4 separate regions of the Homo sapiens genome follow, and all the other regions are linked to region 4. Evidence: fine-mapped QTL for protein levels in blood plasma. A gene starts in region 4. Each other region holds a variant in brackets. All regions are shown on one strand. Distances are from middle to middle. Region 1 overlaps CTSB (cathepsin B). Region 2 overlaps CTSB (cathepsin B). Region 3 overlaps FDFT1 (farnesyl-diphosphate farnesyltransferase 1). Region 4 holds the start of CTSB (cathepsin B).

Evidence for each region. PIP is the chance, under the fine-mapping model, that this variant and not a neighbour inherited with it causes the effect. The UK Biobank Pharma Proteomics Project read protein levels with antibody pairs (Olink). The fine-mapping took linkage between variants from a reference panel, not from the people measured, so its PIPs are less certain.
Region 1: its variant is fine-mapped to the plasma level of the CTSB protein (UK Biobank, PIP above 0.99).
Region 2: its variant is fine-mapped to the plasma level of the CTSB protein (UK Biobank, PIP above 0.99). The variant lies in the coding sequence of CTSB. If it changes the protein, the assay may bind it differently, which can mimic a change of level.
Region 3: its variant is fine-mapped to the plasma level of the CTSB protein (UK Biobank, PIP above 0.99).

Annotation. Positions count from the first base shown.
Region 1 is chr8:11,843,212-11,845,955 of GRCh38, reverse strand. CTSB (cathepsin B) reads left to right here. Exons shown (of 10, transcript NM_001908.5): 9 at 167-295; 10 at 734-2,744. The coding sequence ends at 831. Among named protein-coding and RNA genes, the nearest start is that of CTSB, 24 kb to the left of the region's middle. The variant C/G (reference allele first, on the strand shown) is at 1,343.
Region 2 is chr8:11,849,629-11,852,372 of GRCh38, reverse strand. It overlaps CTSB (cathepsin B), which reads left to right. Exons shown (of 10, transcript NM_001908.5): 4 at 1,393-1,507. Among named protein-coding and RNA genes, the nearest start is that of CTSB, 17 kb to the left of the region's middle. RefSeq lists a silencer at 2,442-2,624. The variant C/T (reference allele first, on the strand shown) is at 1,461.
Region 3 is chr8:11,829,485-11,832,228 of GRCh38, reverse strand. FDFT1 (farnesyl-diphosphate farnesyltransferase 1) reads right to left here. Exons shown (of 8, transcript NM_004462.5): 6 at 1,809-1,985; 7 at 559-711. Among named protein-coding and RNA genes, the nearest start is that of FDFT1, 28 kb to the right of the region's middle. The variant T/G (reference allele first, on the strand shown) is at 1,253.
Region 4 is chr8:11,866,870-11,869,369 of GRCh38, reverse strand. It overlaps CTSB (cathepsin B), which reads left to right and starts at 1,283. Exons shown (of 10, transcript NM_001908.5): 1 at 1,283-1,369. RefSeq lists silencers at 1,130-1,249, 1,390-1,719 and an enhancer at 1,810-2,019.

The DNA of each region.
Region 1 (2,744 bases), 24 kb after region 4:
AATTCCCCAGTATTGTGGGACCCCCCCTGGAGCCTCCTGGTGGAGCAGCAGGTTCCCTCTGGAAGCTGTTTCTCCTTCCCGGAGCATGACCAGCTGAGTGTGGGGGGTGCTGTGGGGCGTGGGACAGTGGCCCGGTCTCGGTCTCAGCCAGTTCTTCCCTTTTCAGGAGTGTACCAACACGTCACCGGAGAGATGATGGGTGGCCATGCCATCCGCATCCTGGGCTGGGGAGTGGAGAATGGCACACCCTACTGGCTGGTTGCCAACTCCTGGAACACTGACTGGGGTGACAATGGTGAGTGGCTGCCCCCTTCCTGCCAAGAACAGTGAATTGTGAGCCACACCCCGTGGCCATCTCGGCTTTCTCTGTTCTACCCACCGCACAGCCTTAAACCCTGGACCTACGGCCAGGCTGTGAGCTCCTCCTAAGTGCCAGGCAGTCAGGAGTTCCCTTTTGCTGTGAGGGCAGACTCTGAGCAGCTTCAGAGCCAACGCCTGCAACAGTTCCCACAGCATCGCGCCAGATCCTGTGATGGGAAGGGTGACCGGGCAGGGGGCTTGCCCGTGGAGGTGTGCCCCACGGCTCCAGAAGCCTTGTGGTGTTGAGGACTGTGCTAGTGGGCCAACAGCAGGAGTGGCCAGGGATGAGTGACTTAAGGTCTTTTAAGGATGAGTCTGACTATATTGGTTGACCCTTGTCACACTTTAAAAGCACCTTACTTTTTATTCCCAGGCTTCTTTAAAATACTCAGAGGACAGGATCACTGTGGAATCGAATCAGAAGTGGTGGCTGGAATTCCACGCACCGATCAGTACTGGGAAAAGATCTAATCTGCCGTGGGCCTGTCGTGCCAGTCCTGGGGGCGAGATCGGGGTAGAAATGCATTTTATTCTTTAAGTTCACGTAAGATACAAGTTTCAGACAGGGTCTGAAGGACTGGATTGGCCAAACATCAGACCTGTCTTCCAAGGAGACCAAGTCCTGGCTACATCCCAGCCTGTGGTTACAGTGCAGACAGGCCATGTGAGCCACCGCTGCCAGCACAGAGCGTCCTTCCCCCTGTAGACTAGTGCCGTAGGGAGTACCTGCTGCCCCAGCTGACTGTGGCCCCCTCCGTGATCCATCCATCTCCAGGGAGCAAGACAGAGACGCAGGAATGGAAAGCGGAGTTCCTAACAGGATGAAAGTTCCCCCATCAGTTCCCCCAGTACCTCCAAGCAAGTAGCTTTCCACATTTGTCACAGAAATCAGAGGAGAGACGGTGTTGGGAGCCCTTTGGAGAACGCCAGTCTCCCAGGCCCCCTGCATCTATCGAGTTTGCAATGTCACAACCTCTCTGAT[C/G]TTGTGCTCAGCATGATTCTTTAATAGAAGTTTTATTTTTTCGTGCACTCTGCTAATCATGTGGGTGAGCCAGTGGAACAGCGGGAGACCTGTGCTAGTTTTACAGATTGCCTCCTTATGACGCGGCTCAAAAGGAAACCAAGTGGTCAGGAGTTGTTTCTGACCCACTGATCTCTACTACCACAAGGAAAATAGTTTAGGAGAAACCAGCTTTTACTGTTTTTGAAAAATTACAGCTTCACCCTGTCAAGTTAACAAGGAATGCCTGTGCCAATAAAAGTTTTCTCCAACTTGAAGTCTACTCTGATGGGATCTCAGATCCTTTGTCACTGCCTATAGACTTGTAGCTGCTGTCTCTCTTTGTCCCTGCAGAGAATCACGTCCTGGAACTGCATGTTCTTGCGACTCTTGGGACTTCATCTTAACTTCTCGCTGCCCCAGCCATGTTTTCAACCATGGCATCCCTCCCCCAATTAGTTCCCTGTCATCCTCGTCAACCTTCTCTGTAAGTGCCTGGTAAGCTTGCCCTTGCTTAAGAACTCAAAACATAGCTGTGCTCTATTTTTTTGTTGTTGTTGTGACTGACAGAGTGAGATTCCGTCTCCCAGGCTGGAGTGCAGTGGCGCCTTCTCAGCTCACTGCAACCTGCAGCCTCCTAGATTCAAGCGATTCTCCTGCTTCAGCCTTCCGAGTAGCTGGGATGACAGGCACTCACCAATATGCCTGGGTAATTTTTGTATTTTTAAGTACATACAGGATTTCACCATGTTGGCCAGGCTAGTTTCAAACTCCCGGCCTCAGGTGGTCTGCCTGCCTCAGCCTCCCAAAGTGTTGGGATTACAGGCGTGAGCCACTGGGCCCTGCCTGTATTTTTTATCAGCCACAAATCCAGCAACAAGCTGAGGATTCAGCTCATAAAACAGGCTTGGTGTCTTGGTGATCTCACATAACCAAGATGCTACCCCGTGGGGAACCACATCCCCCTGGATGCCCTCCAGCCTTGGTTTGGGCTGGAGTCAGGGCCTGTATACAGTATTTTGAATTTGTATGCCACTGGTTTGCATTGCTGGTCAGGAACTCTAGTGCTTTGCATAGCCCTGGTTTAGAAACATGTTATAGCAGTTCTTGGTATAGAGCAAACTAGAAGAACCAGCAATCATTCCACTGTCCTGCCAAGGTACACCTCAGTACTCCCCTTCCCAACTGAAGTGGTATGAGGCTAGCTCTTTCCAAAAGCATTCAAGTTTGGCTTCTGATGTGACTCAGAATTTAGGAACCAGATGCTAGATCAAATAAGCTCTGAAAATCTGAGGAACATTGTAGGAAAGGTTTGTTAAGCATCTCTTAAGTGCCATGATGAGCATAACAGCCGGCCGTCGTGGCTCACGCCTGTAATCCCAGC
Region 2 (2,744 bases), 17 kb after region 4:
TTTTGAGAGAGTCTCACTCTGTCACCCAGGCTGGAGTGCAGTGGCACGATCTTGGCTCACTGCAAACTCTGTCTCCCGGGTTCAAGCGATTCTCATGCCACAGCCTCCTGAGTAGCTGGGGCCACAGGCTTGCACCACCGTGCACGGCTAATATTTGTATTTTTAGTAGAGACTGGGTTTCGCCATACTGGCCAGGCTCGTCTCGAACTCTTGGCCTCAGCAAGTCATCTGCCCAACTCGGCATCCCAGAGTGCTGGGATTACCGGCATGAGCCACCCCCAGTGTTTTCTATTGTGCTTCTCCAAGGTGTCTCAGCCGCAGATGTGACAGACAAGGTCTGGGTCCCCACTATGTGGGCAGACTCAATCTTGAGTAATTTAAGGGAAATCTAAGAAAAGCCAGATGAGGCCAAGTATGGTGGCTCACGCCTGTAATCCCAGCACTTTGGGATGCCAAGGCAAGCGGATCACCTGAGGTCAGGAGTTCGAGACCAGTCTGACCAACATGATGAAACCCCGTCTCTACTAAAAATAAAAAACTTTGCCAGGCGTGGTGGCGGGCGCCTGTAATCCCAGCTACTCGGGAGGCTGAGGCTAGAGAATCGCATGAACCCGGGAGGCAGAGGTTGCGGTGAGCTGAGATGATGCCACTTCCCACGTGAGGATGGGGTAGTTAAGTTGCACGACACTGCCTTCTGCACAATGGGGATGATATGAGAAATGATGAGAGGATCCTGGGCAGAGGTTGAGGCAGGAGAGCAGGGCAAGAAACACTATCTGGACTGAATAAACTTATTTAAAAATGAGTTTATAATTTGTGGATAAATTCATCTTAAAAAATCCATTACATAAGCCTAGAAAGAAGCGTACAATATCGCAAGTCAGGCCAGGTGTGGTGGATCATGCCTGTAATCCCAGCACTTTGGGAGGCCAAGGCAGGCAGATCATTTGAAGCCAGGAGTTTAAGACCAGCCTGGCCAACATGGTGAAACCCTGTCTTTACTAAAAATACAAAAATTAGCCGGGTGTGGTGGTGCATGCCTGTAATCCCAGCTACTCAGGAGGCTGAGGCACGAGAATCGATTGAACTCAGGAGGCAGAGGTTGCAGTGGGCAGAGATCTCGCCACTGCACTCCAGCCTGGATGACACAGTGAAATTCTGTCCACTCCCACCCTCCCGTCCCACCCAAAAAAAAAATCAAAAGGTGCATTGAGCAACAGAATTTCCTTTTGTTTTATGAAATTACCAAGGACACCTGTCTGCAGCCTTCTTCGGCATGTCTTGTGCTCATTTCCTTGTTAGGGGAGTGTGGCCCAGCCAAAGTGGCCTTTGCAGGGATTGGGGAGGGAGTTGTGGGATCAGAGCTTGTAATGAAGACCTTCCTTTATCCAGAGTTATGTTTACCGAGGACCTGAAGCTGCCTGCAAGCTTCGATGCACGGGAACAATGGCCACAGTGTC[C/T]CACCATCAAAGAGATCAGAGACCAGGGCTCCTGTGGCTCCTGCTGGGTAAGGCCCTGCTGGCTGGCGGGGAAGCGCTGGAGAGAAAGTGGGAGCAACACTGGAGAGTCTTGGGGGATTCGGGGTGGGGACAACTCTGACAAGGCAAGTTATAGAAACTTTCTGAGTCCCAGTTTCCATCAGTACAAAAATCACAATCCCTCTGGCCATGAATGATGGCGAGGATTAGGTGGAGTGGCGGGCAGAGCATCCAGCAGATTGCAAGTCCACGTGTACAGGTGGCGAAGCAGCTCCCTTTCCCTGACATGCTGGCCCGTCCGCAAATACCAGGAGCTCTCACTGCTACTCTGCTTCAAGAAAGCATCCCTTTAGTGTCAGTGAGCTGTCTTAATTTTGTCATTTAATTGTGGTAAAATACACGTAACAGAAATGTAATAATCTTAGCAATCTTCTTTTGTTTTCTTTTTCTTTCTTTTTTTTTTTTTTTTTTTTTTGGAGATGGAGTCTTGCTCTGTCACCCAGGCTGGAGTGCAGTGGTGGGATATTGGCTCACTGCAACCTCTGCCTCCTGGGTTCAAGCAATTCTCCTGCCTCAGTCTCCCCAGTAGCTAAGACTACAGGCATGTGCCACCACGCCCAGCTAATTTTTGTATTTTTAGTAGAGATGGGGTTTTGCCATGTTGGACAGCCTGGTCTCAAACGCCTCACCTGTTGATCTGCCTTCCTCGGCCTCGCAAAATGCTGGGATTACAGGCGTGAGCCACCGTGCCCAGCAACTATTTTCAAGTGTACAGTTCTGTAGCATTAAGTACATTCACAGTGTTGCTCAGCCACCACCACCATCTGTCCCCCGAACTCTTTTTCAGCTCGCAAGACAGAAACTCTGTCCCCATTAACACCAATATTGTAGCCCCTGGTAAGCCCCACTCTACTTTCTGTCTCTATGAATTTGACTCCTAGGGACCTCATACAAGTGGATCACAACAGTATTTATTTTCTGGGTGAGCTGTGTTTTTTGTTAAGAAAAAAACACAGCCAGGTACGGTAGCTCACGCCTGTAATCTCAACACTTTGGGAGGCTGAGGCAGGCGGATCACCTGAGGTCAGGAGTTTGAGACCAACCTGGCCAACATGGTGAAACCCTGTCTCTACTAAAAAGACAAAACTTAGCTGGGCCTGGTGGCAGGCACCTATAATCCCAGCTACTATAGAGGCTGAGGCAGGAGAATTGCTTGAACCCAGGAGGCGTAGGTTGCAGTGAGCTGAGATTGCGCCACTGCATTCC
Region 3 (2,744 bases), 37 kb after region 4:
TAAGAAGGTAAGTTTTCTTTTTATAGGATGGTTTTGGTATTTGAAATGAAATTTTCCAAAGAAAATTTAGGAAATAATTGCAACTTGATGGCTTTCCTTGGCCTAAATTCCCTACTGTGATTTTTCAATTGAGGCCTGTGGCATAATGAAAGTACCAGACTGGGTGTCAGGACACATGGACGGGAGCCAGAGATCCACTCAATCACGCACTGCATCAGCACAGACAAGCTTCAACCTCACATTCCTCACCAGCAACAAGAAGCTTGGTTGGCCTCCTGCATCATCTTGCAGCTCAAAATCTATGATTCTACTGAGGGGCTCCAACCTACAGCCTTGCTCCATTTATCTCCTCTCACCAGGGTACTACACAGCAGTGAGCAATCTGCTCGGCTCCTGTGAATAGACTTTTTTCCTTATAAAGGATATCAATTCCTGTCTCTTTAGGCCACAGGATAGTGAATTGTTAGGATCATCTAATATCCAAACCTGGTTAAACAGTGACATTACTAAATCATAAAAGTAGCTACAAATTATCCAAGTAGTTAAATAAAAACCCACCTCTTCCATATACTGATATATGATGGCTTTGACAGCTGGCATATTGGTGGCATCCATCATCAGGGTCACTGCTTGCCCTTTCCGAATCTTCACTGCCCCTTTGAACACCTGCTGGTTATTATAACAGGCAGCCAAAGTGGCAATGGCCATCACCTAGAGACAACAAGAAGAGAGGGAAAAAAGAAGAAATGATGTCGTTAGCTATCATTATCACAAAAAGGTAAGAAAACCTTCTGTTGAATGGGCAATTGCTAACTGCTAATCAACTAAGATGGAATCGCTCAAGAAAAAATACCCACGAAGAAAGTATGTCAAGATTTTTACCTTCCCCACTCCTCCCTTTCTCAACAACACACAGAATTAAGCAGTCTAAAACAATTCTATAATGTAGCCACAAAAGTTCCATTTTATTTGGAAAAAGCAAACACAAGTAAATCCAACATTTTCCATGCTAGAGCAATGGATTATCGGATCGGAAATATGTATTTCAAAATAATATATGGGAAGAATTTTCTATTGTAGTTGTTTTTCTATTTTTCCTACAACAAACATAATCATTATATATTTAAAACCAATGCCAGGGGGAGAACAACCAGAAGGGGATTAATTTCCTGTGCTCAAAGGTAAAGTATTTCTAGGTAAATGGAAACATAAGACGGCGATACAGATTTTACTTTCAACCACCATTCGAAGT[T/G]GGTCATTAGAACAAGATCAAACCAAGTTCCCAAATCAGTTAAATGCTGTTACTTTCTTCACTTATTTGCAGTAGTATCTGCAATACTTGGTAAAGGCAACTAAAAAGTGTAAGTTCCTAGCATACTGAGAGGCTAGGTCTACCGGACCAGGTTCTTTTTATGCCGGGTCTAGGAAAAGGACAGCAGTAATTAGGTGCTTAATGAAGACTTTTTAATGATAACAGCTTCACCCAGGTTTTACCCAGCACTCCCCATAAATCTAAGCCAAAGACCTTGACTTAACTGTGAGGAAAAGAACCTAACTAGTTTAGGATAGCTGTAGAAAATAGTAAATCCAGAAAGAAGGTTCTGAAAAGGAGCAGGCTTAACCTCAAGGCTGAGCTGAGTTTGGTGGCTGGAAGCAAAGGCGGGTGCTATGAAACTCCCAGCGTAATAAACTGGAGTCATCGTCTTTTTAAGGAATCATATCCTTGAATATAGCACAGCAAAATCCACCCTTACTCCTACCCCACTCCCTTTAGCCCCGTATCCACCCAGAGGAGCCCCCTTCCCTACCTGTGGAATAGCACAGAAGTTAAACACACTCTGGTTTCTGAGTCTCGAAAGGTAGGTGATGACATCTGGGATGTGGTGCAGTGCATTGGTTATAAGTTCATTCAGGCACTGCACGGCCAAGTCAATATTCTCCGGCTTAGCAAAATCCCCTAACTTCTTAACATACCTGCTCCAAACCTAGACAGATAAGAAGATTAAGGAACAGGTCAGCGTGTGCATAGGGGAGAATTTACAAACAATATTAAAGGGTCTTTGTGCATAAGAACTATGATACAGGCTGGGCGCCGTGGCTCACGCCTGTAATCCCAGCACTTTGGGAGGCCGAGGAGGGTGGATCACGAGGTCAGGAGTTCAAGACCAGCCTGGCCAAGGTGGTGAAACCCTGTGTCTACTAAAAATACAAAAACTAGCCGGGTACGGTGGCAGGCGCCTGTAATCCCAGCTACTCAGGAGGGTGAGACAGAAGAATTGCTTGAACCTAGGGGGCGGAGGTTGCAGTGAGTCAAGATCTCGCCATTGCACTCCAGCCTGGGTGAAAGAGTGAGACTCCGTCACAAAAACAAAAACAAAACAAAACAAAAAAAAACACTATGATATACAGTAAAGTCTCTTAGCTGCAGACTCATCTTTCACGAAGATCAAGTTCATTTTAAGCTCCATGCAATAGCTATTTCTGACTACCAGTAAGTGTCCAGTTGCAACCTGGAAGTGAGTTACGTATTGGGGAGCATGTCCCGAGGGACAACTAGTGCAACACTGCACTACTTGGACGAATTCAGGCTAAAGAGGCTCCTGTTAGAGCTACTGGCCTACTTCTGAAAAAAATAACCCAATATACAAAAACAGTTATAATTGTACTGCAGACTAAACAGTAAACCTTCTCAAGATGGCCAGGCCTCTAAATAATGACTAACATTATATTCCTACTCTGGTAAG
Region 4 (2,500 bases):
CCGCCTCGGCCTCCCAAAGTGCTGGGATTACAGGCGTGAGCCACTGCACCCGGCTACTGCCTTCTTACTGTCGCCACAGCCTGGATAAAATACGATTCTTCTGAGCCTTTTTTTTTTTTTTAATACAGAGTTTCACTCTTGTTGCCTAGGCTGGAGTGCAATAGTGCGATCTCTGGTCACCGCAACCTCCGCCTCCCGGGTTCAAGCGATTCTCCTGCTTCAGTCTCCCGAGTAGCTGGGATTACTGACACGCGCCACCACGCCCGGCTAGTTTTGTATTTTTAGTAGAGACGGGGTTTCTCCATGTTGGTCAGGATGGTCTCGAACTCCCGACCTCAGGTGACTCACCGGCCTCGGCCTCCCAAAATGCTGGGATTACAGGCGTGAGCCACCGAACCCAGCCCCTCTGAGCCTCTTGAATACAACTGGGGTCATGCCTGCTTTGCAGGTTTGTCTTAAGGATTAAAGCTGTTTGGGGAGTGTCTGGAGGAGGGTGAGTCTTGAGCCAACCCCTGCATCTCCCTTCCAGGGCCTCCCGGTAATAAACCCCAAGTAAATGTGCACTTTGTCCGTCCTCTCGGAGCAGGTCTCCGGGTACTCCTGTGCCAAACCGATTTCCGCCCCCAAGGTCCTTCTCCTCTTAGAAATCCTGACGCAGCTCCTAGGTTCCTTCGCAGTGACAGCCACTCTTTTCTATTTGTACGTAGCTGTAGTGTTTTGTGGGTACGTTCTCTGAACAACAAAGTGGCCCTTCTAAAGGCTGTTCTGTGGGGTCCACAGCCTCGCCACCCCCAGCCTCTGCAGCGGCTTCTGAATGAATGAAATAAGCGACGGCGCCCTCTCCACCACCCCACCCCCGCCAACTCGGCAGGCAGGGATCCCAGGCGCGGGTTCTGGCGGAGGCGGTCCCGCGAGGCGGGGGGACTTTTCTAGGCGGGGTGGGGGCCTTGGGACCACCTTTAGGGGCTTTTTCCCCATCCCCTGGCCCCAATTCGCAGCGTTTCGCCACCCAGGGCCCGCAGGGCTCCAAGCCCTTCTTCCCCAGCCCGCGCGCTCAGGCCCCCGCCCGCCCCCGGCGGTGGCCCCGGACCCCGAGCGGAAGGGGGCGGGGGGTGTGCGGGGCCGGGAAGCGGGGAGCGCGGGCGGCGGAAGGTGGCGGGAGGGGGTGGGGGCTGGGAAGCACCGTGCGCGGGCGGCGGGAGGGCCCGGGCGGGGCTGCGCGGTGGTCACGTGGGGCGGGGCCGGGAGGGTACTTAGGGCCGGGGCTGGCCCAGGCTACGGCGGCTGCAGGGCTCCGGCAACCGCTCCGGCAACGCCAACCGCTCCGCTGCGCGCAGGCTGGGCTGCAGGCTCTCGGCTGCAGCGCTGGGTGAGTGCTGGGGACCCGGGGCCACCGCAGCGTAAGTGACCTTGGCGGGGACGGTGCTACCCGGCCGCCGAGACGGGTTCCTCTGCGCCCTCAGTCGGGCCCAGGCGCGGCCCCGCGGCGTCCCTGGGGGCCGGCGGGGAGCCGGGACCCTCGGGACTGTCCCTGACGGGCGGGCTGGGGTGGGAGTCCGCGCGCTCCGAAGCGTCGGCGAGAAAAGCAGAAAACAGCTCCGCCCGCCAGCCCTCTGCCCTCCGCTCCCCTCCCCGGGCTGTGCGCCGGACCCCGGCCCTCGGAGCGGGGACGCGGCCAGGACCGCCGAGGGAGGCGCCTGCGAGGAAGAGCTCGGCCGGGTCCGGAGACTGCTGCCTGGGACCGCGCTCCCAGCGCCTGGGCCTCGGTGTCTCCGGGCCAAACTGCCGACATAATCGCATCTGCCGGCATCTATTTTCGGTTTATTTCCCCCTCATTGCGAAGGATTTGCCTGGCCAACTTTCTGCGCAAGATCCCACGCAATTCCTGGGACCCCAGAAGACAGGTCCTGTTGAAGAACAGGAATCTGGCACTGGGTGGGCTGGGGAGGAAGCCGCACGGTGTTAAATCCATAAACAGGAAGAGAAACCAGACAGCGAAACCAAGAGGCGAATGGGCGATTGGATGCCGGTGGGGAGAAGGCCGGGGGCGCACCCTGCTCCTGGACTCCAGTAAAGGGAGGCCGGGCAGAGTCCCTGGGGCGCCACCTCCCCCTCGGTTAGTAGCCCTGGAGGCCGGGGGGAGTTGGCCTCTGGGGAGCAGTGGGTGCTGGGTGTGGGGCGTTGCAGGCAGGCTGGGGTGGGCGACCCAGGTGGAAGTGAATTGCACTTGGCTTCCTGGTGGGCCTCTGTCACCCCCTTCCCAGGCGCTGAGAAAGCCAGCAGGCTGGCAAAGAAAAGGACCCTAGCGCAGGCCCCACACTCCTCCTCCTAACGGACGAGAGACCCCCCAAACCCACTGGAGAAGTGACGCTGTGGGGTTCAAATGCAGACCTGGCACCTTTTTGTAGCCTGGAAAAACATTCCCACTGCCTGCTGCCGGAGGAGAGGATAGCTGAGATGCACTCTCTTTGAATCCAAACGTTCAGGAACGTAAGGCGAA